3 separate regions of the Homo sapiens genome follow, and all the other regions are linked to region 1. The links come from fine-mapping of genetic effects on gene expression. A gene starts in region 1. Each other region holds a variant in brackets. All regions are shown on one strand. Distances are from middle to middle.

Evidence for each region. PIP is the estimated chance that this variant, and not a neighbour inherited with it, causes the effect. A credible set is the group of variants that fine-mapping cannot tell apart.
Region 2: its variant is the best candidate, but not a certain one, in a credible set for the expression of COL6A3 in whole blood (INTERVAL, PIP 0.82).
Region 3: its variant is the best candidate, but not a certain one, in a credible set for the expression of COL6A3 in whole blood (INTERVAL, PIP 0.81).

Annotation. Positions count from the first base shown.
Region 1 is chr2:237,409,769-237,419,720 of GRCh38, reverse strand. COL6A3 (collagen type VI alpha 3 chain) reads left to right here and starts at 5,557. Exons shown (of 44, transcript NM_004369.4): 1 at 5,557-5,768.
Region 2 is chr2:237,497,889-237,507,840 of GRCh38, reverse strand. The region is part of intron 2 of MLPH (melanophilin); the gene reads right to left. Among named protein-coding and RNA genes, the nearest start is that of MIR6811, 8.1 kb to the left of the region's middle. RefSeq lists an enhancer at 9,941-9,952. The variant C/T (reference allele first, on the strand shown) is at 5,379.
Region 3 is chr2:237,430,949-237,440,900 of GRCh38, reverse strand. No RefSeq gene overlaps it. Among named protein-coding and RNA genes, the nearest start is that of COL6A3, 22 kb to the right of the region's middle. RefSeq lists an enhancer at 7,486-7,992. The variant T/C (reference allele first, on the strand shown) is at 5,352.

The sequences.
Region 1 (9,952 bases):
ACAGCTTTCTGTGCATGGCTGGCACTACGTTTTCCTTCATAGCCTGGTGTGTTTTAGTAGCATAAAGTGAAGTGCTATTTGGTTTTAGACTCTCGAAAATCGCAGAAACAGCATCATTTGTGCAGTAGAATAGAGTAGGAAAAATTCACACCAACATGTCCATATGAAGTGTTTAGGGAATGGGGAGGGGCAGCTGGTCCATCTTTGTTCCTGAGCCCGGGTCTCAGTGGGACTGAATCTAGAGGTGGGAGCTTTGAAATGTGCAAATTGGGGCAGGGATAGAAGTTGAGGCTAGAAATGAGGCAGAGACGAATATGGCTGATGCAGCCCAGATCCCTGAGGGGTTATTGCTGGATGATTCTGGACATTATTGAGCACAGCTACCACTCACTCTGCAGAAGAGAAAACAGAGTTGCAGGAAGCTTAGTTGACGTGCCCAAAACCTGTGGTGAGTTAGTAGCAAAGAAGGCACTAGGGCCTCATTCCCAGAGATCCGCTCAACTTTCCACTCTGACACTCGAGGAGGCTTAAAACAGGCACAGGGATGGAATGAGAAACCCCAGCTGCCCTCTGGCTGTGGGGTCAGTGGAAGCCTCAAGTCCTCTTCCTTGATTGGGCTTCTAATCCTTCTTGTCTTGAAACAGGCCTAGTTGCCTCAGTGGAGCATTTTACTTTAAGCTGATTTTGGAATGTCACATACCTCCTCTTCAATAAGAGGAAACTCCAGCCTCACTGCAACAAGCAAATCTATTAACATGATTGCAGATCCATCACTGGGAGCTGGTTGGGAGGGTGAGAAGAGTGGACTTGAGCTGGCCCTCCAGGAATATCTCCCAGGATATCCCAGCATAAACCCTCTGGTCTATTCTGGGAGGCAGGGAAACAGGAGCCTGCCCCGGAGAGACTGAACTTAGGAACACACTGCACAGCCGCAATCCAGGGTTTACAGGACAAAGATCGAGGCACCCTTCAGCAGCTGTCTGGATGCTGGGATGCGGGGTGTGGCAGATGCTGCTGCTGTGGCTGCGACTTCCCTTTGAGTCCTGGAGACTGTGATGGAACTCGGATGCTTAGTCTGTTACACAGTCTGCCACTGCCTCTTAACATTCAGGGAGCTGGAGTCTTCATATTGGCTTCTCTATGACTGTGTGTATGTTCAAGTTCCTTCTAGCAGAGCCTGAGACAGGGTGTTGTGCAAGCGATTACTGAGGGAGAGCTCCCAGGGGAAACCTAGAAGGAAGGCAGGAAGAAGGATGAGGGCAGGAGAAGAAGCCAGGCAAGGAGTGGGTTCTGAGAAGTCAGGCTGGTCCCATGGCAGGTGTTCTGCAGTGAGAATCCTCTTGCCAAGTTTTTCTGGCCCAGAGGCAATGGACTGGAGTGTCACATCCCACATCAGACATCACTGGCTGTGGGCCACCCCAAGGGAGATGGGCTATAACCCTGTACTAGTTATCAACTGCTGTGTAACAAATTGTCACAAAACTAGCAATTTACGACAACATGCATTTAGTATCTTGGGTCAGGAGTTCAGGCTTGGCTTCACTGGGTCCTCTGCTGGGGTCTCAGAGGCTGAAACCTCCGTTTGGGAGACTACATTTCTTTCTGAAACACGGAGTCTTTTCAAAGCTCACGTAGATGTTGGCAGAAGTCAGGCCCTTGTGGTTGTCGAGTTGGGGTTCCTGCTTCCTTGCTTGTTAGGAGCTGCTCTCAGCTCCCAGAGGCCCCCACATTTCCTTGCCATTGGCCCTCACAGGATGGCGGCTCACTTTGTCAAGGCCAGTGTCTTAGTCCATTTGGATGGTTGTAACAAAATGTCTTAAACTTGGTGGCTTAAACAACAAAAATTGATTTCTCATGTTTGGGAGTTTGAGAAGCCCAAGATCAAAGTGCCCGCAGATTCGGTGTCTGGAGAGGTCCTGCTTCCTAACTCGTGCACTGCACCTTCCCTCTGTATCCTCACATGGTGGGAGGATGGAGCAGTCTCTCCATATCCTCTTTTATAAGGCACTGATCCCATTCATCAAGGCTTCTCCTCTACGACCCAATAACCTCCCAAAGGCCCCATCTCCCAATACCATCACTTTGGGGGTTAGAATTTCAACATATGGATTTTTGGGGGACATGACATCCAGACCCCAGCAGCCAGCAAGATAATCTCTCCCTGCCGTTTCCTAAGACAGAGTCTTCTGTGATCCCTGGGTGACTTCCCACGACCCAACTGTAACCTAATCCAGGAAGGGACACCATTCATTTTTGTCGTGTTCAAAGGCTGGAATCAGGGCTCAGCTTCCATTTGCACGCAAGGGGGGTGGATTACGCAAGGGCTTGACTCCTGGGGGTCATCTTGGAATTCCACCCACCTCACACACCCCAATGTGTCCAGAAGAGACAGATCCCAGCATCCACGAACAGTCCTCCAGGAAAGGGCGTGGGTGTGAACCACTAACATTTGACTCTCATCTGAGGGGAGTCTTGCAGAGGCACCCATGGGACCTTCCACACTGTCCTTGCCCGCAGGAGAAAGGGCAGCCAAAGTCTCAGAAAATCGCCATCCCTCAGGCCACCTTCCAATCCCATAGCCGTGTATCTGGATGGGGAGGCCCCATCCCCATCAGGGCCACAGCTACAAGGGAGCTTGGAAAATGGAGTTCTGAACTTGCTAACTTGTGTAGTTAAGGACAAGATAAGGGAAGAAAATGGGAAGAGGTGCCAAGAGCCAGTTCAAGCCTGCAGTGAAGGGGAAACAGAATTGAGATATTCCGTGACTTATGAGGTGAACTGAGAGATTCAGTGACTTATGAGGTCCCACCGATGGCCGGGCCTAGATCCAGGACTCAGGACGTTTAGGGCAGCTCAAACTTTTGAGGTTGTTTTCCTCCTGGGATCAGGTAGCAGAGAGGAACTGGAAATGTAAGTGGGAATCCACATAGTGGTGATTAAGGAAGAAAGCTGCCATAGAACCCAAATTCTCTCTTGTTAGCACAAGGGAGGTTTACCATGAGTTTCTGGAAGTTTCTAGAGCCATGGGCAGTGCTGAAGAGGATCTGGATCATCAATGAGTAGGTGCAGCTAAATATTAAAGATTATGGTTTCCTACTGAATGGGAGCTTTTATTTCTTTAAATCATGTTCTAAATGATTTCTTGCCCTTGCTGTTTAAATATAGCCATCCATTGGTATCCATGGGGGACTGATTCCAGGAACCTCCATGGATACCCAAATCCACAGAGGCCCCAATCCCTGAAGGAAGGTGGTGTAGTATTTGCACATAACCTATGCACATCCTTCTGTGTACTTCAAGCCATCTCTAGATTACTTATAATACCTAATACAGTGTAAATGCCATGTAAACAGTTGTTATACTGTGTCATTTAGAGAATGATGACAAGGAAAAACATCTGTACATGTTCAGTATATATGCAATCATCTACTTTAAAAAGCATTTTTGAACCACAGTTGGTTAAATCCATGGATGCAGAACCCATGGATACGAGGTCGACTGTAATAGAAACTTTCAATACCAAGGAATGCATCTGCCTAGCGATTTTGCGAAAAAGAGTGTATTTGTATTTGAAAGAAACCGTGGAGTGGAAACACCTAAAACGTGCTTGTTCAGTTAACCTCAGTTTGCTGAGCTGCTTGGAGCATGGGGTTGTAATCAAAGATTGTCTTCTTCGCAGCAGACAATGTTCTGGGAGAAATAGTCCTCCTTAGTGCTGAAGTTGCAGACTCTAACCAAGGGGGTGGCAGCAAGTATCCCCGGTCTCTGTAGGGGCTTGAGTCAACGCCTGCACTGTGCAGAGAGGATGAGGGCAGAGAATTGGATGCCGCTGGAGGGGCGTGTTGTCCTTCTACATGTCATGCAGGCAGCGCGGTTCTATACTCGGAGCCTCTGCTCAGCGTGTCTTCACCTAAGAACCCCATAATTCAGGTTCCATCCTTGTTCCCTACTCCAGTGCTCTGCAAGTGAGCCCTTTGGTTTAGAGATGGGTTGGGCTTCTTTATGGGAGAGGAAGGGAGCCCTGGAGCTGCAGAGGGGAGCAGGCATTCTCTCTGGGGTGCTGTCTCCTTTCTTCCCTAAATTGGAGGGAGATAATCCATGGAAAGGAGTTAATGATTTCTTTGCTCTTCAAACTTGGTTTGGAAGGATCTCTCAGTCAAAAAGAACCTTTCGGATGTCTCTTGATATTTCACATTAATGGACTTTTCATAAGGACCACATGATGGGAGAGCAGTGAGAAGTTTGGGGATGGCCAAAGCTGGGTTGTCATTTGAGCTCTGTTACTAACCCAGACTGGACAATGACGATGTCACTTACTCTCTCGGAACTTCTTTTCTTTTCTTCTTTTCTTTTCTTTTTTTCTTTTTTCTCTTCTCTTCTCTTCTCTTCTCTTCTCTTCTCTTCTTTTCTTTTCATTTCTTTTCTTTCTTTCCTTTTTCTCTTTTTTGGAGTCTCACTCTGTTGCCCAGGCTAGAGTGCAGTGGCGCCATCTCGGCTCACTGCAACCTCTGCCTCCTGGGTTCAAGCAATTGTCCTGCCTCAGCCTCCCAAATAGCTGGGACTACAAGCGCCTGCCACCATGCCTGGCTAATTTTTATATTTTTAGTAGAGATTTAGTAGGGGTTTCACCATGTTGGCCAGGCTGGTCTCCAACTCCTGACCTTGTGATCTGCCTGCCTTAGCCTCCCGAAGTGCTGAGATTACAGGCATAAGCCACCGTGCCCAGCCTGTTTCTTTCATCTGTAAAATGGGACCACAATTTCACCTAATAAAAGAAGACATCTTTCTATTTAAAAGGGCTTAGGGTGTTGATGTTTGTGATAAAGGAGAGAATGTATATTGAAGTGTTTTGAAATGTGCAAAGCTTTCTAGAAACAGAAGTTCTTACTCAAGTATTTTCCCGAAGCTTTGGCAAGATAACCATTTTTATTACCCCGTCTGTGCCTAGAATGGGCCTATAAGCGCCACAATCAGAATCATTAGATATAGAAATTAAGAGAAATGTAGCCTCCTTTTTTTTGCCGGTGAACAGAGCTTTGGTTAACAGAAAACCAAGGCGATTTTAATTGCTGGTTTTTCTATTTGAAGGGGGAAGTTATTAGTAGAAGTCTCAATTCAGAAACTTCAAGAAGAAATGGGAGGGTGTGGTGAGGGTAAGCGGGGGACTGCATTTCCTGTTTTCCTTTCAGATGGTGTTGGAAAACATTGCAGGAAAACCATGGATACCCACGAAGAAATTCCAAAATTTATTCTTTTTGACGCCAAGGGCCCAGCCCAAAAGGTGACGAGTAGGAGTGGTCAATTTTTTTTTTTAAGAGTTGGGGCTTGCAGGAGTCCAGCTAAACGCTTGTAGGGTGAAGACAGAATTCAGAGGGTGACATCAGCCTGAGCGGGGGCCAGAAGAAACAGAGTGGAGGAGTCTGGTTTCATTTACAGTTTTGGGTCAGTTCTGCAGTGAGGAGGGGGAGAGGAGGGGTCCGGGAGGGAGGAGGAGGAGGAGGAGGAGCTGGAGGAAGCCCTGACTGGTATCCCTGGCCCCAGTCCAGTTTGGAGCTCAGTCTTCCACCAAAGGCCGTTCAGTTCTCCTGGGCTCCAGCCTCCTGCAAGGACTGCAAGAGTTTTCCTCCGCAGCTCTGAGTCTCCACTTTTTTGGTGGAGAAAGGCTGCAAAAAGAAAAAGAGACGCAGTGAGTGGGAAAAGTATGCATCCTATTCAAACCTAATTGAATCGAGGAGCCCAGGGACACACGCCTTCAGGTTTGCTCAGGGGTAAGTGTGATTTCTCTTCTGTTTTTCCAGGTTTGGGGCTAGAAGGAAATGCTCTTAACCTGAAGTGATCCTTTCTAGGTAGCGTTAGTGGCTCTTACGTTCATGCTGATCGCCAGTTTTCTGTACATGTTTTAGGTCTCTGGAAGATTCCGCTGATTTTTCTTTCTCACTTTATGGCAATGGGATTTCCTTAAATTGGTTAAGGTCATGATTGCCTAAGAGTGTGAGCACTTTTCCACCGCGTGTCTGTGGCTGCTACACGCGCCCTGTGCATTCCGGGCGGCAGTGTGTTTCGGCCCATGATTTATTTAAGTTACTGCCGCCTTCTAAAACCCATTCGGGATCCGCTTTGTTTGCAGAAGCGTCTTTGCTGAGGACTAGCATAGCTCCCTGCCGGGCGGCTCCGCTGGGAGATGTTCTCTGAGCTCTCTGGGTGGTGACACTAGGTCAGGGTGCAACAACCTGCATGGGTTTTCTGCCCAGGGCCGCCCATGGGAAGGTCCTGGTGGAGCACATTTGCTGCTTTCACAAGATTGGAGTAACTCTGGTGCTCAGGATCAGGGCCAAGTAAAGGGTCGCTCAGTCATTGCCGTCAAGCTTTCGTCTTTCCAGGAACCTGAAGTCTCTATTGGAGACTTTGTCCCTTGGGGTTGCTTAAAGGAGTTGCAGGGGTCAGAGGAGAAGAAGGAATTGGGCATTTGGGCAGCATGCTGAGTGTCTAAGGCAGGGCCCCTGGGGCTGCAGGGCCAGCCCATGCTGCACAGAGGTGAGGCCAGTGCCGAGCTGGGAGGCCCCGAGGGCTGTTCTCTGGCCCGGAGGATGCAGGGTGGGGCTCGGGCCCTCTCTTGCTGAGGATGGACACGTTCGCTGACAGTGGCCAGCCTGTTTGGGGAACCTGTTTCAAGGGGCCTACTATGTTGGATAATGAACGGGTATTGAAGTATGGGTGGGGTCACTGGGAGGGACTAGGGAGTGGTTAAAGAAAAATCTGCTTCCACAGGAAGCCCCAGGAGCCAGTTTCGAGGCCGGTGCAGACCCCAGGAGCAAACCCCTCTGAGCACAGGGGAGTCTGCTGTGCTGGATGGGGAGGCAGGGCTGTGGCCCCGGCTGACTGGCTTCTCTCCCCACATACAGCTCACCCCGGCGAGGACCACAGGGTGCTAGAGCTGCAGGGTGCTCAGAGCTCACGGGGATGGTGGATGCTCAACCTGGGATCCCCCAGCTCCCCAGGGTCCCATTCTTAATGCTGTAAAAAACAACCGAAATGGCTTTAAAATCAAAGTTACATTGCTCCTAAGCAAAACTATATTGAAAACTGAGTGGGTGGCCGTTGATGACATTACTGGGACTTCTGAGGTTTTTGTTGGGCTAAAGATAATGGAAGAGATTTTTGGTCAGAAGCCACTGATGCAGTAGTTTCCTGGTTTTCAAAATGAGCAACCAGGGGCTCTGAGATGCGGAATTCCTTGCCCAGGCCAGGGAGCGAGTGCCTGAGATGGCAGTGAAATCCTTCCCCATTGAAGGAGAGCAGACAAGCCAGTGACGGAGGATCCCAAATAACTCACATCTCGTTGGGAAAACTGCTTTGGGCTCACTAAGACTCTACCAATGAACCGAGAAAGAAGGGAGGTGGACCGTGGGGCGGGGGCATCGGTTCCGTGACCGGAATACCGGGGCTGGCCGCCCTGCTCAGGCCACCTCCTGGGGGTGGAGGGCGCTGAAGGAGGGGACCTGTATGCTCTTCTTTCTGAAGTGGGCTTGTAGCTGAGGATGAAAGCCTGGGTGGGGAGGCGTGGCTTTTACAAAGATCAGGATGTAGGAACAGCTGCCTGTCTGGACTTCTTTGTTTAGGGGGTTTCTTGCTACCCAGAGGTTTAGTTCTCTCCTTTCCTCACTCATGGTCGAGAGAAGCCAGGAAGCAGACACTGAGTGGAGCAGAGGGCTTGGGAAGGAATTCCATGTTGGGGTGAAGTGAGGCTGTCCTGGCTTTTCCTATCCAGGCATTGGAGGGTGTGGCTACAGCACCTTTCTGGGAGGTGGCTGGGGAAGCCTCTAGAATGTTAGCCCTTGGCCCCGCTCTTTCCCTGCTTGGCAGGGAGCGTGTTCCACCCCACTATAGTTGTGGCCCACAGGTGAGGGGACATGTGGCAAATGTCCAAACCTGGGGTCTGAATGATATTTTTGATACGAGGTAGGCACCTTTCTGAAAAATTGTCTTTACTTCACACTTCATTTTATTTCTAAAGCATTCAGGACTCAGCAAATTGCACTGACTTTATCATCAGTGCCTTTTGTGATTTCCTATCCTAGAACTTAATACGTCCCCGATGAGAAAGTAGGAAGAAGCTCCTCTCTTCAGTCGATTGTTGATTTATGGTTCCAATGAGGCTGCTCATCCTGACCTTAGTTTCAGGAACGGAACCCATAGACCTGGATGCCTAAAGCCAGCTTGAAACAAGACCGCCTTCTTTGGAAGCTTTGGAAGCTGGCAGTGACTTTTTGCCAGCGAGGTTTCATTTGTTTCCTTGCTCAGAGTGTTCAGACAACTGGATCAAGCGTAGTCTTCACCAGCGGTTGATATCACCTCCCACTTATATGTGAAATTCCATGTTTAGGACTTAAAATTCACCGGCAAGTCGTGAATACTATTGCGTGACACTTCCTTGCAGGCGCAGTAACAGCTTTAGCAAAAATTTTTATTTGAAAGTTCAGTTTTGTCACTGCTCTTTTTGGAAGAAGCTGAAAATCTGCTATCTCTTGGGGGAAGGATTGCAGGCGGTTTCCATCTGACAGGGATGTTGTGTACCAGGCAGCTTTTCCACCCTGACTTACGGGAGCAAACTTTTCATGGTGTCCTGGCTGCAGCAAGCAGGCAGTAAAAAACACATCACTGCTACATAAATAGCTGACGATTTGAGGAGGGACCTGACATTTAAAGAAAATCCTATTAGCTCTAGCTAAGAAAATGAAAGCCGCAAACCCTCCAAATTTTAAAGTGGGGGAGCTTTAAAGTTTCCTACTAATTCAGACAGCCATGAACTAGACAAGAATGGTTATCTTCATTCTCCCGTTTCTAGATACAGCTTCTCTGTTTCCACTGTAAAACTTCAGTGGAATTCAGTGTAAAAATTCAGTGCAAAGAAAGGACAATCCTATTCTTTAAATAAAACATGTTGCTTGCCCCCTCTAATGTGTGGTCATGAATGTCTTATTTCCAGGGAGTATTCCACAGGTCCTGATTTTGCAGAGATATTCCCTTCAACAATTCACTTTGTTAATTTTGAAAAATATAATTTTTAATACATTCTGGTCTTATAGTCCATTTTGGGAAAGAGATGAAATTTTGAGGGCTGGGCACTGTGGCTCATCTCTGTAATCCCAGCACTTTGGGAGGCTGAGGTGGGCGGATCGCTTGAGCCCAGGAGTTTGAGACAAGCCTGGGCAACATAGGGAGACCTTGTCTCTACAAAAGCGTTTTAAAAAATTAACCAGGCATGGTGGCATGTGCCTGTAATCTCAGCTACGAGGCTGAGTTGGGAGGATCACTTGAGCCTGGGAGGTTGAGGCTGCAGTGAGCCGTGACTATGCCACTGCACTTCAGCGCCTGGGCGACAGAACCAGACCCTGTTTCAGAAAAAAAAAAAAAAAAAAAGAAAAGAAATTTTGAGTTAGCACGTTCATCCTGGTCTGTTTTTGAAAAGGCAGTTTGGTTTTCTTTCCTCTAGAGGGAGGTGTATCTCTGCGAGCTTCAGAAAAATCTCTGAAGTGGTGCCTGGAGTCTCCCAGGGTGGAGTTTCAGGGTTTGTAGTAACTCAGTGATGACCATCTCAGCAGAGCTTGCGGGCAGTTTTAGGACTGATATTTCAATACATGATTGTCATTATTATATTTATTGTGGCTGTTCATAATAACGGAAGTGTACATACGTTAGAGCTTTGTTTTTCTTCTCTGCTCAGGTGTAAGTGTATTGAGATGAAATTGTGCCATCAAAGGAGGCATCTTTGTTCCCAAACAATTGCATTACAAGGGTATTCAGCAAATAAGACATTTTATAGGAAGCATTTTACCCATATCTAATTACAGAGGTTTAAATGAACAGTCGGGTGCTTGAGAACCAAAGTAGGTTTGCATATTCATGCCATTGCGTATCCCTGTAGAATTACCGGATTTTAGAACTGTAAGGG
Region 2 (9,952 bases), 88 kb before region 1:
GACTTGGGTACTTGGCAGATATTTTCTCAAAAATGAACAAAGTGCGACTCTCACTTCAAGGAAAAGAAGTGACAGTATTTATTGCCAGTAATAAAACGGAAGCTTTCAAGCACAAAGTAGAATTCTGGAAAACATATATCGCCTGCTGTGAGCTTGACAGTTTGCAACACTGGGAGACTTTTGATGAGGGTTTCCAACACCGGGAGACTTTTGATGAGATCGCTGGTGAGAGTAACAGAAGTGGTTCTCTTTTGGTGTGCATATGAAATGTGTCAACATTTGAGAAGTCTGCATCACTCAGTGAGCCGGTGTCTTCCAAATGATTAATGCATGGTGTTACAAAAATCACACAGGGGTAGAAAATCCACTTCAAGTGCAAGAGAGACCAATGGATTTGAACAAACAGAAAAGGAAAAGTTCATTAACATGGTTTCAGATTCCACATCACAACTAACCTTTAAGAAACTACCAACTGGCCGGGCGCAGTGGCTCATGCCTGTAATTCCAGCACTTTGGGAGGCTGAGGCAGGCAGATCACTTGAGGTCAGGAGTTTGAGACTAGCTCGGCCAATGTGGTGAAACCCTGTCTCTACTAAAAATGCAAAAATTAGCCAGACATGGTGGCACGCACCTGTAGTCACAGCTACTTAGGAGGCTGAGGCAGGGGAATCGCTTGAACCTAGGAGGTGGAGGTTGCAGTAAGCCGAGATTACGCTACTGCACTCCATCCAAGGGTGGCAGAGAGAGACTTTGTCTCAAAAAAAAAAAAAAAAAAAAAGAAAAAAAAAAGAAAAAGGAAAAAAACTACCAACTCCAACTGCCGGGTTTTCATGTTGTAACAACACATGATGTTAATTATTGTCTACAAAGGCTATTCAAGTACTCCTTTTTTCAATTATGTATCTGTATGAGCCTAGATTTTCTTCAAATACTACAGCCTAGAAAACATGTTACGACCCACTGAATGCAGAAGCAAGTGGAGAATTCACCCATCTTCTATTGTTCCAGATAAGGGAGGAGACCACCCCTCATATTGTCTTATGCCCAATTTCTGCCTCCAAAGAAAAAAGAAGTAAAAACTAAAAGGCAGAAATGAAATCCACAGGCAGACAGCCCAGCGCCACACCCTGGGCCTGGTAGTTAAAGATCGACCCCTGACCTAATCAGTTATGTTATCTATAGATTACAGACATTGCACGGAAAAGCATTGTGAAAATCCCTGTCCTGTTCTGTTCCATTCTAATTACTGGTGCAGGTGCATGTAGCCCCCAGTCACGTACCCCCTGCTTGCTCAATCGATCATGACCCTCTCACATGAACCCCCTTAGAGTTGTAAGCCCTTAAAAGGGACAGGAATTGCTCACTCGAGGAACTTGGTTTTTGGAGACGTGAGTCTGCCGATGCTCCCAGCTGAATAAAGCCCTTTCCTTCTACAATTCGGTGTCTGAGGAGTTCTTGTCTGTGGCTTGTCCTGCTACACAGACATTAAAGAGATTTGCAAAAGCAGAACAACACCACTCACCTTACTCACACTCTGATTTTGGGAAAATCTCATTTTTTATAAAAACTGTATTTATATTAACATGTAGGGGGTTTACTGTTATTTTTAAATGAGTGAATAAATAAATATTTTTAACTCCCAGTTTTAATTTCTGATGTGGTAAATATTAATAGATATGACCCATATGAATAAAACTCTTTGGGGTTCTCAGTAATTTAGGAAATGTGAAGGGGTCCTGAGGCCCAAAGGTTTGAGAACTGCTGATTTCGAAGTCAAGTTTGCTCTCCCTCCCAGAATGTGGAGAAAAGGGACTAAGCGATGGGAGACAGTGGGGAGATGATGGCAAAGGCCGAGAAAGTGAGCTCCCAGGGGAGACAGAGCCCTGGAGACGGGGATGCATGGGGGTGGAAGGGAAGTGCTGTCCTTGTCCTTGGGGCAGGGGACCCACATTACTGTCCTCTGCAGTCCCACCTCCAGAGGGCCCTGGGACACGCATGCCAGAGCTGTGACTGGTGGGGCAGAACAGAGCCAAGGGGGCACTCCTGTCCTCAAGGGAGGCCCGGCAGCCTCTGAAGAAAGGGCGTATACCAGGGAAGGAAAACGCTTCTAGGACGGGAACAGGAAGGAAAGGCCGCTCCTATGATGGGGTCTGGACAGGATTGGTGAGCCACGCAGGGTGAAGGGGTCAGACCTGTGCCCTGCTCTGCCCCTCTTGGGGTGAAATCTAGACAGGGGTGTGGTGGCAACATGCAGGAATACTGGGGAGAGCCCAGGATGGCGGGGCTGGTGGCCACCCCTGAAGGCACAGCAGGGGGAAGCTCCCACTGTGGCCATCCCCAAGGTCCAGCACACAGGCGGGGGAAGAGCCTGCATGAGGGGTCCTGTGGGCCTCCACTTGCGTTGGGTGCTGGGGTGGTGGGGAATCCACATCCCTGTGATCCTTAAACCATGCTCCAGCAGGACTGCATGCGATGAGGAGCAGCCAGGGGACTGGCAGAGGCTTGGGGTTGGTGGAAGAGGCCACAGCACGTGGGTATGTGGCTGGGATCAGGGTCTCAGTGGTGGGTGCCATCCGTATCTCAGTGCCCGGCCAGTACCCTTCACATACCAGCCAGCGGTCCCCATCCTGCAAGCTGACCTGCCCTCCACTCTGCATCAGGACCAGCAAGGAGGTGGGGACAGTGTGTGGAGTCCAGACCCCATCAACCTGGCCACCGGGAGGGTCATGAGCCTTTCTCCCAAGGCCCAGCTGCTGGCCTGGCCAAAAGCATGGGTTGGGGAGCAGAGGTGGGGTTGTGGGGAGCTCTGGAAGAGAAGCTGAGCCAGGAACAGAGACCCGGTAAGTGAGCAGAGTCTGGGAGATCTGAAGCCCTGAAGCTTGCACTGTCTTGCTGCTCAAGGGGTGGGGTCTCACGAGGGGGAGCAGATGGGAAATAAAAGACCTGTATTTCCTTTGCACGGCTTGGTTGGGTGAAGTTTTCGACCATGAGTTTTTGCCATGCCACTGAGGCAGCCGTCACCCTAACAACACAGGAAAACTCTCCTAACCAGAGAGAAGAAACAAAGAAAGAGCTGAGTCTTCAGATTAGAGGGGTCGCTGGATGGTAGGAGATGCCTACACAGACTGACAAGACCACTCTGTTATAGGGCGGGCAAAATCCCTACCAGCATGGTGGACAGAACCGGCGGCCTCCAACAGAGTGGAGGTCATGCAGGGGGCCCTTCTGCAAGGCTGAGGGCTGGCCGTGGGGCAGTGGCTCCCGTCCAACTGCTGCCATTTCAGAGCTCCACCAACTCCATGGCTTAAAACAATGCAAATGCTGGTCAGTTGCGGTGGCTCACACCTGTAATCCCAGCACTTTGGGAGGCCAAGGTGGGTGGATCACCTGAGGTCAGGAGTTCGAGACCAGCCTGGCCAACATGGTGAATCCCCATCTCTACTAAAAATACAAAAAATCAGCCCCGTGTGGTGGTGGGCACCTGTAATCCCAGCTACTTGGGAGGCTGAGACAGGAGAATCGCTTAAACCCAGGAGGTGGAGGTTGCAGTGAGCTGAGATTGCGCCACTGCACTCCAGCCTGGGCAGTAAGAGCAAAACTCCACCTCAAAAAACAAAATAAAATAAAATAAACACAATACAAAAACAATGCAAATGCATTACCTGACAGCTCTGGAGGGCAGAAGTTTGACTCAGGATTCATTGAGCTAACATCAAGGTGTCGGCAGGATTGTGGCACCTCCTGGAGCCCCCAGAGGGGAATCTGCTCTCTGGCAGTTTAGCTTCTTGAGGGCTTCAGGTATGTGGGCTCCTGGCCCCTTTCTCCATCTTCAAAACCAGCCATCCCTTCTGCTTCTAAGGCCCCTGTGATGATATTAGGCCCGCCCAGGGAACCCGGGATCATCTCCCAGGTCCAGGCCAGCAGGTGGGCAGCCTAAAATGCATAATCCCATTTCTGTATAGCCTCACGAATTCAGAGGTTCTTGGGGTTGGGAAGTAGACATCTTTTTGGGGGGGATTATTCTGCTTACCACCGGTAAGCATCCCCACAGCCTGTAGGGGAAAGCGTGTGAGGTCAGATTGTACTCCCAGGCAAGTGGAACAGATCCTCAAAGACAAAATCCACACTCCATGCCATGCCTGAGAAAACAGCCTGAGGACAGACCCCAGGTAATGGAGAAATGATTCCTGAGGGTGACCCTGAGTTGGGGACTGGAGCACAAAAGATCCAGTGAGTCACAGGATCCAGGGGCCAAATGACTGAAAGCGTGGCAACCAAAGTAAACCTCACGTCAGGGCTAACGGCTGGCAGAGGACGGAAAGACGGCAGCATTGCTGAGGAGCAGCACCGGGGACCCAGGCTCCTCATCCTGGGAACGCGTGTCGGGAATTACCACGAGGGAGCTGGAAACTCACTCAAGTTCCTGGAGATCCTCTAAAGGGGAAGACCAAGATGACGATAAAAAAGATGAAGAGGAAGTGAGTGGTGATGTGAGAACGGCAGGCGCTGAGAGACGGAGCCTCAGAGTATCTCCTAAAACATCTCAGACCAATGTTCCCCTCCAGGCCCTGCCTTGGCAGCGGAGTCCCTGTTTTAGCCCCTATTTTTTTCATCTCTAGAGTTGCCTGTGTCCGTGATTCCAACTAGTCCGGCTAAGGGTGATTTCAAATTCCTTATGATCAAAAAAATGGATTTTTATTATTTATTTATGTATTTATTTTTGAGATGGAATTTCGCTCTGCTGCCCAGGCTGGACTGAAGTGGTGTGATCTTGGCTGACTGCAACCTTTGCCCCCCGGGTTCAAGCGATTCTCCTGCCTCAGCCTCCTGAGTAGCTGAGACAACAGGCGCCTGCCATCATGGCTGGCTAATTTTTGTATTTTTAGTAGAGATGGGGTTTCGCCATGCTGACCAGGCTGGTCTCGAACTCCTGACCTCAGGTGAACCACCTGCCTCGGCCTCCCAAAGTGCTAGGGTTACAGGCATCAGTCACCGAGCCTGGTCAAAAAAAAATTTTTTTTAAAGCAAGCCACGGTTTGCCCGTGTCTCATACTAGGAGACCCTTCACAGATTCTCTCTGAACCTCCTCTGTTTGCAGAGATCACAAATCCACGTCACCACCTATTTGCCTTTCCAGGGCAGGTTGGCAGTCCTAATATTTGATTTGTAGGCTGTGTCCTTTAAAACAGGGTGTTCCGTTTGGGCTTCAGCCTTTCCCCCAGGGCATGAGTCACCCAAGTCCGGCTATGCATGGTCTCCTAGTTCTTCCTGGGTTTGGAGAATATCCATTAATTTCTACCATAACCACAGCTGAGGGGCTACCCTAACAAATGCAGAAAGCAGTTACTGGGAGAACTTGACACAAGCATGATACAAAG[C/T]AAGACACAAATCAGCACCAATGCAAGCTCCAGGGTGCCCAGGAGGAGGCCTGCTCCTTTTGTGCACAGCCCCAGGTCCCTTGGGTCCAGGACAGGGATGGGTGCCTAAGAAGTTCTGGGCTCTTCTGGGGACAGAAGGAGTTAAAAGCTGTGACTATTAACCAATGTTCCCTTCAAGAAGGTTTACTTTGGCCCTACTTTGTATTTGTAGAACATTAAAAAATAATAACATGTGATAATCTTTTCTGTACTTAAAACCTTCTTAATACCCAAGTGATATGAATGAATCTAAAACACTCAAGATGAGAGCACTCTGAGGACCACTTCTATGGAACTCACCACCAGATTACAGGAAAACAGGGACAATGGAACTTTGGTGCAAACATCACGAGGATATCCTCAGCTAACTCCAGACTGTGAAAAATTCCACAAAAGTAAACAGCTAGCTTTCTTCTACACATAAGCTTCAAATTAAAAAAACAGAGCTGAAAAGAGATCTTACAGATTCAAAGAGACTTAAAAGATACAGCAAGCAAGTGTAAGGTCTGGACATTATTTGGAGATGAGCGGAAAAGTTTTAACACACATTAGATATTTAAGGAATTAGATCTAATTATTTTATTTATTATTATTATTATTTTTTGAGGAGTGCAGTGGCGCGATCTCAGCTCATGCAACCTCCGCCTCCCAGGTTCAAGCAATTTTCTTGCCTCAGCCTCCTGAGTAGCTGGGATTACAGGCACCTGCCACCATGCCTGGCTAATTTTTTTGTATTTTTTTTTTTTTTTTTTTTTTTTTAGTAGAGACGTGGTTTCACTATGTTAGCCAGGCTGGCCTCGAACTCTTGACCTCAGGTGATCCACCCTCTTCGGCCTCTCAAAGTGCTGGGATTACAGGTGTGAGCCACTGTACCTGGCCTAGAGTGAATTATTTTAGATGTAATATATATTTATGGGGGAAATAGGAGATGAGAGGAACAATAATACGAGACAATACACCAATACACAGCAAGCTCTCACTCACTGCAGATAGACCCGCGAATGCTAAAAGTAAACATTTACCAGATATTCATCACAGCTGGGTAACCCGCCCCAGACTCAGTTTCTCACTTGTGCATGGGGCCAGTAAAAGTAACCACATCACAGGGGTGTCTGAGGGTTAAAGGAGACAATAGAGATGAAGCTGAAAGAGGTCATCATCCAATGTGAGCCCAGAGAGCTGTGGAGTCGTTCCATGGTCAGTACTGTGCTGGGGGCTGGTGACACAGCGCCAAAGCAGCAGAACCCTCATGGGGCTTAGATGCCGGCAGGGATAAGACACTAACAAGGAAATGACTCACTGGGCATTGGAGAAGCGCTAAGGAGGAAATGGAGGAGGGAGTGAGGTCCCACGGTGAGCAGGGGTGAGGAGGGCGAATTTCATCGTAAATGTGATGGAAGCTCTGTGGGGGTTATGAGCCGGGGGATGACCTGATCCACATTTTTAAGGCATGAGTCTGGGGGATGTGGGGAGAATGGACAACAAGACGGTGAGGGTGGAGGGAGAGAAGAGTAAGTGTGTGTGTGGGGTGGATTCCTGTGGTGTCCACAAGAAAGACAGTGTGGCGTGACCTGAGGCTGGCATTGAGGGCGGTGAGCAGTGGCTGTATTGGTTGAGCCACGGGACTGGCTGAGTGTGGGGTGTGGGGTGAGAGGGAAGGAGCAGAGACAGCCATGAGTCCTGGGAACTTAACTTTGGCAACAGCCTGCATCCAAGATGGGGATGGGGTGCTTGGAGGTGGAGGAGAAATCACAACTTCTGTTTTGGACATGCTGGGACAGAGATGTCAGTGGAACACTTTGGCCGCAGTGTCGTGCAAGCCTTTGCCTACAAAAGTCAGAGTTCAGAGGATGTGTCTCTGATGTGGGTGTAAACTTGGGACTCATTGTTTAGATGTGTTGTCTAGCTGCTGTAGTAGCTCCTAGCTGCTAGGGCACATGCAGCTATTTACGTTTAAATTAATTAAAATTGAATACGATTAAAACTTTTTTTCCCCAGTTGCATTAGCCACACTTCTGGTGCTCCATAGCCTTGGGTGGCTAGTGGCTGCCACATGGGTCATGCAGATACGAACATTTCCATCACTGTAGAAAGTTCCATCAGGCAGTGCTGGTCTAGAACTCATTTAAAACCTTGGGGCTGGACAAGGTCACTGGAGAAGTGAGTGACACAGAGCAGAGAAGAGAGTTGAGGCCAGGGCCCTCGACCCTGCGAAAGGGAATATTTAAAGAGTCCAAGAAGTTCCAGCAAAGGAGACAGAGAAGGGACTAGACTCCAACACACGACGTAGAGCCACATCCAGAGAGGGCTCAATGAGTGCTGAGCTTCTGCTACCATTATTGGATTTTTCTACGTATTTTTTTAAAAAAGTAAAATCTGGCTAAGTGTAGTGGCTCACATCTGTAATCCCAGCACTTTGAGAGGTTGAAGTGGGAAGATCACTTGAGCCCAGGAGTTCAAGACAAGCCTGGACAACATAGAGAGACCCCATCTCTACAAAAAATTTAAAAAATTAGCTAGGTGTGGTGATGCATGCCTGTAGTCTCAGCTTCTCAGGAGACTGAGGTGGGAGGGTTACTTGAGCCTGGGAGGTCGAGGCTGCAGTGAGCCATGATCACGCCACTGCACTCCAGCCTGGGTAACAGAGCAAGACCCTGTCTCACAAAACAAACAAAAAAAAAGTAAAATGGGATAAAATTACATTTTCACAACTTGCTTTTTCTACTGGACAATGTCTTGTGAACTATTAATGTCAATTTATTTCTATCATTATTTTCATTGGGTGCTGAGCAACCTATTGTTAAATCCGTTGTTAAATTTGGTATTTAACCAAAGCCTGAACATTTGGACATTAGGGTCTTTCTAGTTCTTCTCTCCTGTAACCCTTGTCTGATTCTCTCCTTATGATGACTTCCAGCAGAGGACCTGCTGGCTCAACAGGTGAGCATACTTTTAAGACTTTTGCTACCTTAGTCCAAATGGGCCTCTGCAAAGATCTGATATGGTGGCCACTAACCACATGTGGCCATCAAAAACCTGCAATGTGACTAATAAGACTGAAGAGCTAAATTTTATTTAATTATAATTTTATTTTATTTAATTATAATTAATTTTAATAGCCACTAGTGGCTAGTAACTTCTGTCCTGGACAGTGCAGCCTTAGGTCTATTTATATGATGATTTAACAGGGCTATGTATATATTTTTCTTTATCTTCATCAATATGAGGTGTCAGGGCGAGGCTAGTGAACACTCTGCCGTGAAGCAGTTTAAATCACACAGGATTTATCTGTTCTTTGACCATTTAAAAGATCCATCCATGAAAGCATATGGACGAAACCCTCCGGGAAGATCTGTCATTGGCAATTTATTCCAATAATGGGCCAGCGGGAAAAAGAGGAGGCTTCAAACTAACCACAGAGTAAAGTCAAGAGAGTGTGGGGAAAGTTACACCCAGGACAAGCAGAGGGTCAGGAGGGACAAAGGCTGAGAAGGGGCTGCTGATCGGGCAGCTCCTGGGATAGGACATGGGTGTTAAGTCAAATCTATCCTAAAATGCCTATCTGATGCCAGTGGTGCTAACATCCTAATTTTGTACATCTTCAAGTTTTCGATTCTATGGTGCACAGCACTGTGTCCTCGTGGGAGGCAGGAACAGCCCTCCCACTCTATATAGCAAACAGCCCATTCCCAAATCCCTAGTGGCACAGATGACTTGAGAGAGAGATTATGCCTGCCTGGGCTAGATCAAGACGTGCTGGCTTCCCCTTCCTTCTCACCGATCCCTCCTAAGGGCCAGCAAGGAGAGCCTTGTCAGGCGTGTGCGTCACCGAATGTCCACAGCACAGCTTGGAGGGAGGGGCAGGCCTGGCCAAGGGAGCAGGAGCTTCCGTGGCTTGGGGACAGGATGCTGCTCATGGGGGTCTCAGGGTCACATGCCCTCCTTCCTCCAGCATATCAGGGATCTGGACCAGCTTGTTTGTCCCTGCTTTGACAGAGGAGAAATCAAAGTTGTGTTGTTCTGACGCTGTGGGAAAAGGCGCAGGCGTCACCTCCAGACCCTGCCCAGCGTCCTTCAACGTGATTGATGCTCACATCTGGAGAGAAATACTGAGCAGGAATCCATCTGACACACATCTGCTAATTTTAAGACTGTTAAAAGAAATGCATTTTCTTTGGTTTGATAATTGGTGCATTAAGTGAATCCGCTCTTAAGCAAATCAACCCCCTGGCAAACTTGTTTCTGGGGCACTGGCCTTGAGTCTGCATGCTGTGTTCCCCTGATGCATATTCTGGGTAGTAAAGCTCTTTCCAAGAAACGATGGTGTGTTTCTTGGTTTCACAATTCCCCCACCCCTGTTCTCTCCTCTCTCCAATCAGTGGCCTTGAGTTTCCTCGGGCTGGGTCGCGCCCACGGGCTTCCCTCTCAGAGTTTGTGAGACACATGGGAAACTGCTGGGCGGCTCCTGAATTGCTACATTTGTTACCGCCACCTACTTAGTGGTCCCTCGAGCACCAGTTTCTTCATCCAGCCTC
Region 3 (9,952 bases), 21 kb before region 1:
TTCTGGAGCTGTCCTGTTTCTGAAGCTGTCCTGTTTCTGAAGCTGTCTCATTTGGTTTTCACCATGAGGCACATCCTCCAACTTGGCCTCCCCCAGTAATATAGGTGATGTTTTCTATCTCCCATCTGGCACTTCCTTGTTTTTCAATTTGTTTTAAATTTGTCTTCCCATGCCTCAAAAAGACAACAAGCAAGACCAGGCAGCATGGAGGGGAAGACATTTTCAATGACAGAAAGAGAGTGTGACAAAGATCACTCATGAAGAATTAAATACTAGGCTTCTCAGAATCCTCACCAGCAGCACTGGATGCTAGAAGCCAACGGAGCGAGTTCTAAAGGAAAAGGACTTTAGTTTATGACACCTTAAACTCAGTATTCAACATCCTTAAACTATTGCTCAAGTGTGAGGGAATAACAAAGATTTTTTCACGCGTGGACTAACTAAGCAAGTTTACCTCTCATGCATCTTTCCATGGGAGGTGAATGGAGGACATTCTCCCAAAAGAGAAGAAATTAAATCAAGAAAGAGCCAGACCTGACTTCTAGCAGTTGGTGCATTTGATTGTAAGAGCACCATACTCTCTGCAAGGATGGTGGCAGTGGGGCACAGGCTGGAGGGAAAGGCTGAGAGGAAGTCTCTGGGAAAGGAGGAAAGAGTAAAAGAGATAAAGCAATTGAGATCCTGGAGGGTCTTGCAAAGATATAAGGCAATTAGCAGAGTGCAAAAAGGACTCATGTCCAGAGACAATTCCTTTTTAGTTGCATTGTTGGCCTTCCAGAGAAGGAAATGCAACACCAGCACCCTACTCAGCTGTGCAGTGACACACATTTACATTGTGTGTGTGTGATATCTGTGTGTAGCAGTGATAGGTTTTTAACTTTCAGATTCAATTTTTGGATAATTTACTCCATATGGAAACAGCATTGAATGTTAATATTCCCAAATTTTTAAAAATAATAAAATAAGAGCAATGATTCCACAGAGTGGGGTGGTGGAAGGTGCTGAGGAGGGGCAGAGGGAAGATGAGGGCATCATGTCCTATTATAACATGGGATTCAAGAGGCATAGCAAGAGTTAATGGTTGGTTGTTTTAGGCCCTTTCTTTTTCCTTATATTTTCTTTTCTTTTTCTTTCTTTTCTTTTTTCTTTTTTGTTTGAGACAGGCTTTTGCTCTATCATCCAAGCTGGAGTGCAGTGGTCCAATCAAGGCTTATTGCAGCCTCGACCTCCTGGGCTCAAGAGATCCTCCAACCTTGGCCTCCCAAAGTTCTGGAATTACAGGTGTGAGCCACCTTGCCTGGCCACCCTTTCAATCTATTAATGCAAGTCGTTCAATTCTGGGAAGTTTTCTTGTGTTATTTCTTTAATAATTTCTTCTCTCCATTTTGAGGCTTCTGGAATAGATTGATCCTTTAATGGTCTTATCTTTTCCCTTCCATTGTAAATTCCTTTTATTTTTGTTCAGCCTTCTTGGAGATTTTCTCAACATTATTGTCTATCCTTTTTGCTATTTTTTTTTTTTTTTTGGTATGGAGTCCTGCTCTGTTGCCCATGCTAGAGTGCAGTGGAGTGATCTGGGCTCACTGCAACCTCTGCCTCCCAGGTTCAAGCAATTCTCCCTGCTTCAGCCTCCTAAGTAGCTGGGATTACAGGCTCCCACCACCACGCCTGGCTAATTTTTGTATTTTTTAGTAGAGACAGGGTTTCACCATTTTGGCCAGGCTGGTCTTGAATTCCTGACCTCAGGTGATCTGCCCACCTTGGCTTCCCAAAGTGCTGGGGTTACAGGTGTGAGCCACCGTGCCCGGCCTATTTTTTTTGCTTTTGATCCTTGTGTTTTTAACTAAAGTGGCAGTTAAATATTCTGCCTTTAAAAAAATTTAAAATAACATCCTGCTCTTGTTTTAAGAATGCATTATTTTTTCTTTCTTTGAGGTTATAAAATATAGTGTTTTTTGAAGTTTTATTCTGCTCTCTTTATTGCTTACTTTAACTCCTCCCCCTCCCCATTTGTTGATTGTCCTTGGTCTTTGACTTCTATGGCAGGCACATATGTAAATTTGGGGCCTCAGGATGATGGTAGGAGGGTTTCTAAACATGAGTAACTTGGGCTTTACTGCAGGGTGAGCTGCAGGCCAACTGGCTTGTTCATTAGGAACCCCCAGTGGTCAATCTCTGTGGCTGTTTTCTCTGGAGCAGTTTGGTTTCTGTAGAAAAGGACTCTCTGATTGCCAGCTGGGTTGGGGCAAGGGCTACTGGTGATCTGGGTGAGACGGCAGGACTGGGAATTTCCATGCTCGGCATGCACAATTTCCTGGCCCGCTGGGTTTCAGTCCAGCCACTCTTTTCTCCCAATGTGCCTGCAGGTTTGGTTCCTTTGGTTCACTTTCCCCAGAGAATAAACTTCCTGTCTCAGCATCTTGGGGCCACCTGGATGTGGAACCCAGGCCAGAGGGCTCCTTGTACAGATGTTTACACCATGCGCTATTTCCAGCAACCCCTGCCCTCGCCTCCTGGGTGGAGGATCTACAGGCTATGTCACCTGCAGTTACCTGCACAGGTACCTGTCACCTGCAGTTCCCAAGCCTTCCTGGATATGCTTCTCATTGTTCTCTCTCCCACCGGCCTTAAGTCCCGCCCTCTCTGGCCCTGCTGTAAGTTTCCCATTCATCTGCCTGCTTCCTGCTTTCACGTTGTGAACTGGGGTTATAAATATCTTTTGTGTCCCTATTTCCCTGTTCTCCTTGCTAAAATGTGCTTTTTGAGAAAAGTTGGGAGTGGAAAAGCTTCTACTCCAGTATCTTAAAACTAGGACTCCCCTGTGTATTTTTTTAAATTAGAAATTCAAAAATAAAATGTAACAGGGCATTCTCTGCACTCATGCCTGCTTTGAAGGGGTTTATCATGCAGCCTGGCCCCAGAGTTTAAGTACAGCAGCTCCTTTCTTCCTCAAATCCAGGCACAAAGTGGCCTGCGGGGCTGTGGGGTTGTCTCCCCGGGGTGCCTGAACAGTTAGGTCTGAGAGGCTCAGAGTGGATGGGGGCCTTGATGGGCTCACGTTGTGGATGGATGGTTGGCAGACACCATCTGGAGCTGGCAGCCTGCGGGTCACTCTGGTGATGACTGATGCCTTAGCAAGCTGTCCTGGACAGGTGCAGCACCCACCGGGCTCCTGGGTCCCCAAAAGCTATTCCATGGAGTGGCCTTTCTCTGGTCCACTGACCATGGCTGATTCTGGGGCTGCCCACAGAAATGGGCTCAGGTGCTTAGATCACCCCCAGCCAGTGCTGCTTCTCTGACCCTCCCCATGTCCTATTTGAGCTCCTGTCCTCACTGGGCAAGGTGCCATGGGACCCCTTCTAAGGGTGACATCCTCTCTTTGTTTCCTGTGGCTGCCATAACAAATCACCATGAACGTGATGGCTTAGAATGACAGAAATGTATTTTCTCACAGTTTTAGAGTCCAAAAGTCTGAGATCCAGGTGTGGGCAGGGCTGTGCTCCCTTCCAGAGGCTCTGGAGGAAAATTCTTCCTGCCTCTTCTGGTTCTGGTGGCTCTGGTGTTCCTCGGCCCCAATCTCTCCATTTTCACAGGACCTTCCCCTCCTGCTCCCCTTGCAAGTCTTCTCTCTTCCCCCTCTCTAAGGACACTATTTGTGGATTTAGGGCCCACCTAGGCAGTCCAGGATAATCTCATCTCAAAAATTTTTTTTTTTTTTGAGATAAAGTCTCTCTTTGTCACCCAGGCTGGAGTGCAGTGGCACGATCTTGGCTCACCGCAAACTCCTCCTCCTGGGTTCAAGTGAATCTTGGCCTCAGCCTCCCAAGTAGCTGGGATTACAGGCGTGTGCCACCACACCTGGCTAATTATTTGTGTTTTTAGTAGAGACGGGGTTTCACCATGTTGGCCTGGCTGGTCTCAAATTCCTGACCTCAGGCGATCCACCCGCCTCAGCCTCCCAAAGTGCTGGGATTACCTGCATGAGCCACCGCGCCTGGCCTCGAAATTCTTAATTACACCTGAAAGACCCATTTTCCAAATACGGCCATATTCTGAGGTTTAGGGATTAGAACATGGATATACCTTTCTGGGGCCACCATTCAACCCAGGGTACCCTGTAAACTCCTGACACATCCTCTTTTTGGCCTAATCCCTGCGGAGTGAGTTTTCTGCAGAGTCTTACTGATGACTATGAAGGAAACAGCCACCTTGTTGGATCTCCAGGTGACCATTCTGCTCCTGGGCCCTCACAGGTGGGATAGTCAACAGTATGAAGGGGTGACCTCTTCATTTGCGTTCATTTAGCAGACATTTACCCTCCATGTGGCACAGAGCAGGTGCAGTGGTGGAGCAGCTTCTCTTCGAGGTGTATCTGTTTTTCCCTTAGGATGGCGCCGCTGCCTGAACCAATCTTCAGGCTCATAAACCCTTGGCTGGACCCTACACTGCACTTGCTCCCTCCTGGGGCTGGCCTTCCTCCGGGGTTGACCAGCTATCTGGCATGGCCACACGCCCCACCCCATGAACGACTCTTTGAACACCCAGTCCCTGGTGACAAAGCAGGAATTCGGTGCCCCCTCCTGGGTGAGCATTTCAACAGGGCAGAACTGTACTCCAAGGAAGGGGCCAGCATGATAATTTTCAGCAGTGTGTAAAGTGAGAAGGGAGCATTTTGGCGAGGGGATATGTACTACTGAAGTTTAGTAAAAATACACACGAACTCTTAAAAGGAGTAGTAAAAATAAAAGAGCAAAGAAAGAGCAGAAACTAGATAAAGGAAAGGGGTGGGGAGAGAGTGTACCAGAAACACTATTTGTCCTCAAAAGTGCTAACATTTTCTGTTTGGAGCCTGTTGCCTAGTGAAATTCCACAACCAGGGTGTCATTCCTGCTGCGTGCAGGCTTCTCCAGAAGCCTCATGAGACCAAGGCCTTCTACTATTTTAATATATGGGTCAATGGAAAACAGTTGGAAATCAGGTAGTTGGTTAAAATTTCACTGGCCAGGCCCTTGTTTGAATAGACACATTTATAATTCAGTTAATGCTCTAGTAAAATTACACCGAGGTGGTTAGAAAATTTAAGGATTTTTTTTTTTATTTTGGAGAGGAGAAGAGGAGAGGTCAGAAATGTCCAGCTGGGAAGGCACTGAAAGACCCTGTGGCCCACCCCTCCCTTGTTGGTGAGCCAGGGGACAGAATTGAGACCTGTCCTCAGGTCTTCTGGCTCCAGCTTCTGTCCCACTTCCCTGGCAGAGGTCACGACTCTGCAAATGTGTTTTGCTTCAGAGAAAAAATTTGCTCCAACATGTAAAAATTCAAATCTCACAAAAAAGGTGGAATTTCTAGCTCCT[T/C]TGAGAATGCTGGAAGTTCTGCTGCCTGTGATGCTGTCCCTGTAAGGGTGGGCTGGCACAGCCATGCAGAAGCCAGGGGACCACCGTCCACCTGCTCTGGGGCCCCATGGGATTTGAGTCCTGTGGTGGCAGAGGAAAGCAGCTCACCCTTAGTTCAGCTGCACCTCACCCAGCAAAGACGGCCCCTACAGGTCCTAAAGGGGCAAGGGACGCAGCCAGGGAAGCTTCTTGCAGACTCTCTGAGGTCTCCGAAGTCATTGTTGACTCCCAGGGGCCTGACCCCCATGTGCACGCCTTCGTTTATTATCTCCTGGGGTGATGTGGGAGCACGTGGGGCATAAGGAAGGAGGGCTCGGGAGCACCCCTGAATATGGTCATTACTGGCATCGTGAGCCCCTCCCACCACTTCCTGCCACCCCCACTCGCTTTCTAGCCGTACGGAAATGTTTGTGGTTCTCTGCATCTACCACAGGGTTCCAGGGCCCACGTCGTGGCTCTCACAGTCCCCTGTGCTGGGATGTCCTGCCCCCGCACGGCTGCTCCATTTGAACAACTCCCACACATCCTTCCAGACCCAGATTAGGTGTCTTCTTCTCCAGGAAGGCTTTTATGACTCCAGCTGACTAGACTGAATTAGACCTTCAGGGGCGGAGCTAGGGAAGGGGTGGGGGATGGTGGTGGAGGGGAGCTAGCAGTTTTAATAAGCCCCCCAGTGGCTCTGACAGGCAGCCAGGCTTGCCAGCACTGCTCTGCTGGAAGCATCCTGCAAAAGCCGTGCTTATTTATTTGCTTTTGTGAGCTTCATCAGTTCTTCCAATTTTCACCCTGAAAATGATCCTTCAAACTCAGCCGCTGGATAAGACACCCTGAAATGGACATGCCTAATGTGAAACGTAGGTGCTTGATTGGGTTGGGCTGTGATCGTCTGTAGAAGGTTGACTAAATGGGTGTCCAGTGTCTTATTTGTAGCTCAGAGAGACAACCTTCTGGCTACAGTGGTAAGAACTGATGTCTCCTCCAGGTGCTTTTGATGGGCCAGGTGTGTTCCAATTACTTTAAGTGTTATGCACGCATGCACTCTGCACTGCACCCTTATGTGCAAGTGTGACTATTATCCTTATTTTACAGAGAAAGACAGTGAGATCTGGTGAGGTTGAGTACTTGGCCCCCGGTGACTTATCACACCTGGGATTTGATCCAGACCCTCTGGCTTACACCTGTCTTAGGTCTGGCTCCGTGGAAACAGTGCCTGAGACAAATTCTCAGTGCAAGTGACTGATCAAGGGATATGGATGCTGTGGGAGAAGCTAGCACAGGAGGGAGGGGAGCGGGAGAGGTCGGGGAGGAAGTGGGGCAAGGGGTGTGCAGGGGAAGTGCAGCCGAGCCGGCTCTCATGTTGCTCAGGGGCATTCATTAGATTTGCCCTGTAGTGCTTGGCAGCCTTCCCTTTGCCAGTCTTTGGCTTTGGGCCTTCTCTGGAGGGAGACATAGTTCTTGGGACCTCTGGGGAGGGGCCGCTGTTGCTTAGGGATGATTCTCCAGGGAAGGCTACCTGTGCGAGCGCTTAGCAGCACCTGCAGCAGCTGGGAGATGGGCTCTCCCGTGGACAATGAATCCTAGGGGCTGGAGGGGGAGTAGCCAATGATGTGGCCATCACCCATCACAGCCCTCATCCTTAGCCATGATACAGAGTGCAGAGCTGTAAGCCATCCGGGCAGCTCAGCCTGGCCCAGACAATTCTGGAAAGGGAAGGTTCCTGGGCTTTTTTCTCCTGTGCTCCGGGATCTCCACTGTGGTTGCCATCAATAGACATGATTACCAGGCACCTCTCTCTGGCGGCACCTGGATGGGCTTCCTTCCTTGGGAGTCTGAAGGTGGCAAAAGGGTGCAGAGGATGTCCTGAGAGTGCAAAGTCCTTCCCCTGCACTAAGAGTCACACGCAGCCATCTGTGTTCTGTACCTTCTGTACCTTTAGCCCATGGCACAGTCTGGCACATGGTAGCTCTCAGGGACAGCTTAGTGGCATGAATGAATGAGTAAAGCAATGATGCCATCAACCTTATTGCCACCAAGTTCCCGGCCATGCTGCTGTCCAGAAAGCCTATTGGGCAAACTTGAGGCCTTGTTATCTTCTCCTTCACTGTCTTTCTAAGAAACAGGCTTGCAGCCCACTCGCCACCCCTCCCAGAGTTTAGTTGGCAGATTTGATGCAGGTCTTGGGTGTCTGAGAAAGTGATCATGTGTGTTTCCTGGGGACGCAGACTGCCAACGTGCAGGTGAGAAGCTACGGGGCAGTTCTCCAATGCTCAGTGACCCCGCTCGGGGCTGGAGAGGTGAGTTGAGGAGACAGCGAGGTAGGGATGCTCATGCATGGTTACGGTTACTGTTTACAGCTTCTCGGCCATTCGTGGCTGCAGCCAGTGGAAAAAGGACTTCACCATTGCTTATAAACCATGAATCAGTGTCCGCCTTTGCTAACGGCTTCCTTGGTGAGTATCTCATTCACTTTGCCCCTGAGGGAGGATGGGGGGTAGCTGGAACAATGTGCGTCTGTGCCATTTCCTGTGAATGGCTGCCTGGCAGTCGTCTGCTCATCAACCCCAACGCAGTGCTCCGACCCCTCCCGGTCTGTGGCCGAGGTGGGCGGGCGGGAGGTGAGCCTGGCTCCTCTGCTGGCCTGCCTCCCCACTTACTCACTACCATGTCATCTACCCAGGCCTGTCCCCGCCCACTTGCCGATGGCATCCCGGACCTGGGACAGCCTGGCAGGGAGCCCATGTTCCTGTTCCTCCCTTCCCTTCCCCAGAACCTTCTTTATCTACCCCAGAGAGCCAGCATTCCTTCCTGCAGGGGCTCATCCTCCTGCAGTGCTGTGGTCAGCAGTGGGCTGGACACAGAGAGGTGAAAGCTCATGTCCTGTCTGCGAGAGGTGCATGGTCTTATCACAGTGTGCACAAGTGATGACACGGAGGTCGGGTACACTCCTGCTGGCAGCCCTGTTGCAGGAGGGCATCACTCTGTCTGGGTTGCCAAGGACGGCTGCACAGCAGAAGTGATTGTTAAGTGTCTGGGTGGAGAAGAGGGAGAGGATGTTCCAGGCAAAGAGAACAGTATGAATGGCTGTGAAGTTCCAAGGCTCTTTATTTGTTACATGTGCTAAAACATTCTGTGGCCTTTAATCTCTTCTACTTACTCCTCTCAACCAATCTCCATGATAACCCTGGGAGGCCGGAAAGATGAGGGCATTATTGTCATTTCACCACAGAGAAATTGGAGGTCAGATGGAGTAGCCAACAATCCACATCCTCTCCTTCAGACCAGTGACAGCCCCCAGCCTGCAGCCTGCCCCCCACTTCTCCATTGCTGGGTCAATGCACAAGATGCATGATTTCATTTCATCCTATTTCACTTCATCTCATCTCACTGTATTCCGCTTGCCTCCTGCTCCCCAGCTCTAGGCAACTACTGACCTTTCTGTCTTTACAGGTTTGGTTATTCAAACATTGCATAGGAATGGAATCATAGAACACATGATATTTTGTGACTGCCTTCTTTCACTTGGCGTAATGTTTCTGAGGTTCATCCACGTTGTAGCGTGTATCAATACTTCATTCTTTTTAATAGATGATTAATATTCCATTGCATGGATGTAATACATTTTGATCATTCATCACTTGATGGACATTTGGGTTGTTTCTACTTTTTGCCTATTAGGAATAATGCTACTAAAATAAACATTTTTTTTGTTTTGCTTTTGTGTGAACATTTGTTTTCAATCCTTTTGAGTGTATAGCTAGGGGTGGAATTGCTGGGTCATAGGATAACTCTATGTTGATCCTTTGGAGGAACTGCCAGAAAGTTTTTTTTTTTTGAGGTGGCTGCACCATTTTACATTCCCACCAGCAGTGTGTGGGAGTTCCAGTTTCTCTGTATTCTCATTAATACTTGTTATCTAAGTCATCCTAGTGAATTGGAAGTGGTAGTTCTTTGTGGTTTTGATTTGTCATTCTCTGATGACTGGTGACATTGGGCATCTTTTCATACACTTATTGGTCATTTGTACATCTCCTTTGGAGAAATGTCTATTTAGGCGCTTTGCCCATTTTACAGATTGGGTTTTTTTTATCTTTTATTGAGTTGTGAGAACTCATAATTTATTCTAGATACAAATCTCTCATGAGATATGTGATTTGCAAGTATTTTTTCCCATTCTGTGGGGTGTCTTTTCACTTTCTTAAAAGTGTCTTTTGAAACACAATAGTTTTAAAATTTGATGAAGTCCAATTTTTCTATTTTTCTATTTGTTGCTTTTTTTATGTGTCATATCTAAAAAAAAAACCATTGGCTAATCTAAGGTTGTGAAGATATACCCCTATATCTATTTCTAGGAGTTTTTATAGTTTTAGCTCTTATGGCTAGTTGTTTTTTTGTTTTTTTTTTTGAGACAGGATCTTGCTCCATGGTCCAGGCTGGAGTGCAGTGGTGTGATCACAGTGCAGCTTCAACCTCCTGGGCTCCAGCTCCTCCCACCTCAGCCTCCTGAGTAGCTGAAACTACAGTTGTGTGCTACCATGCATGGCTAATTTTTTAACTCTTTTGTA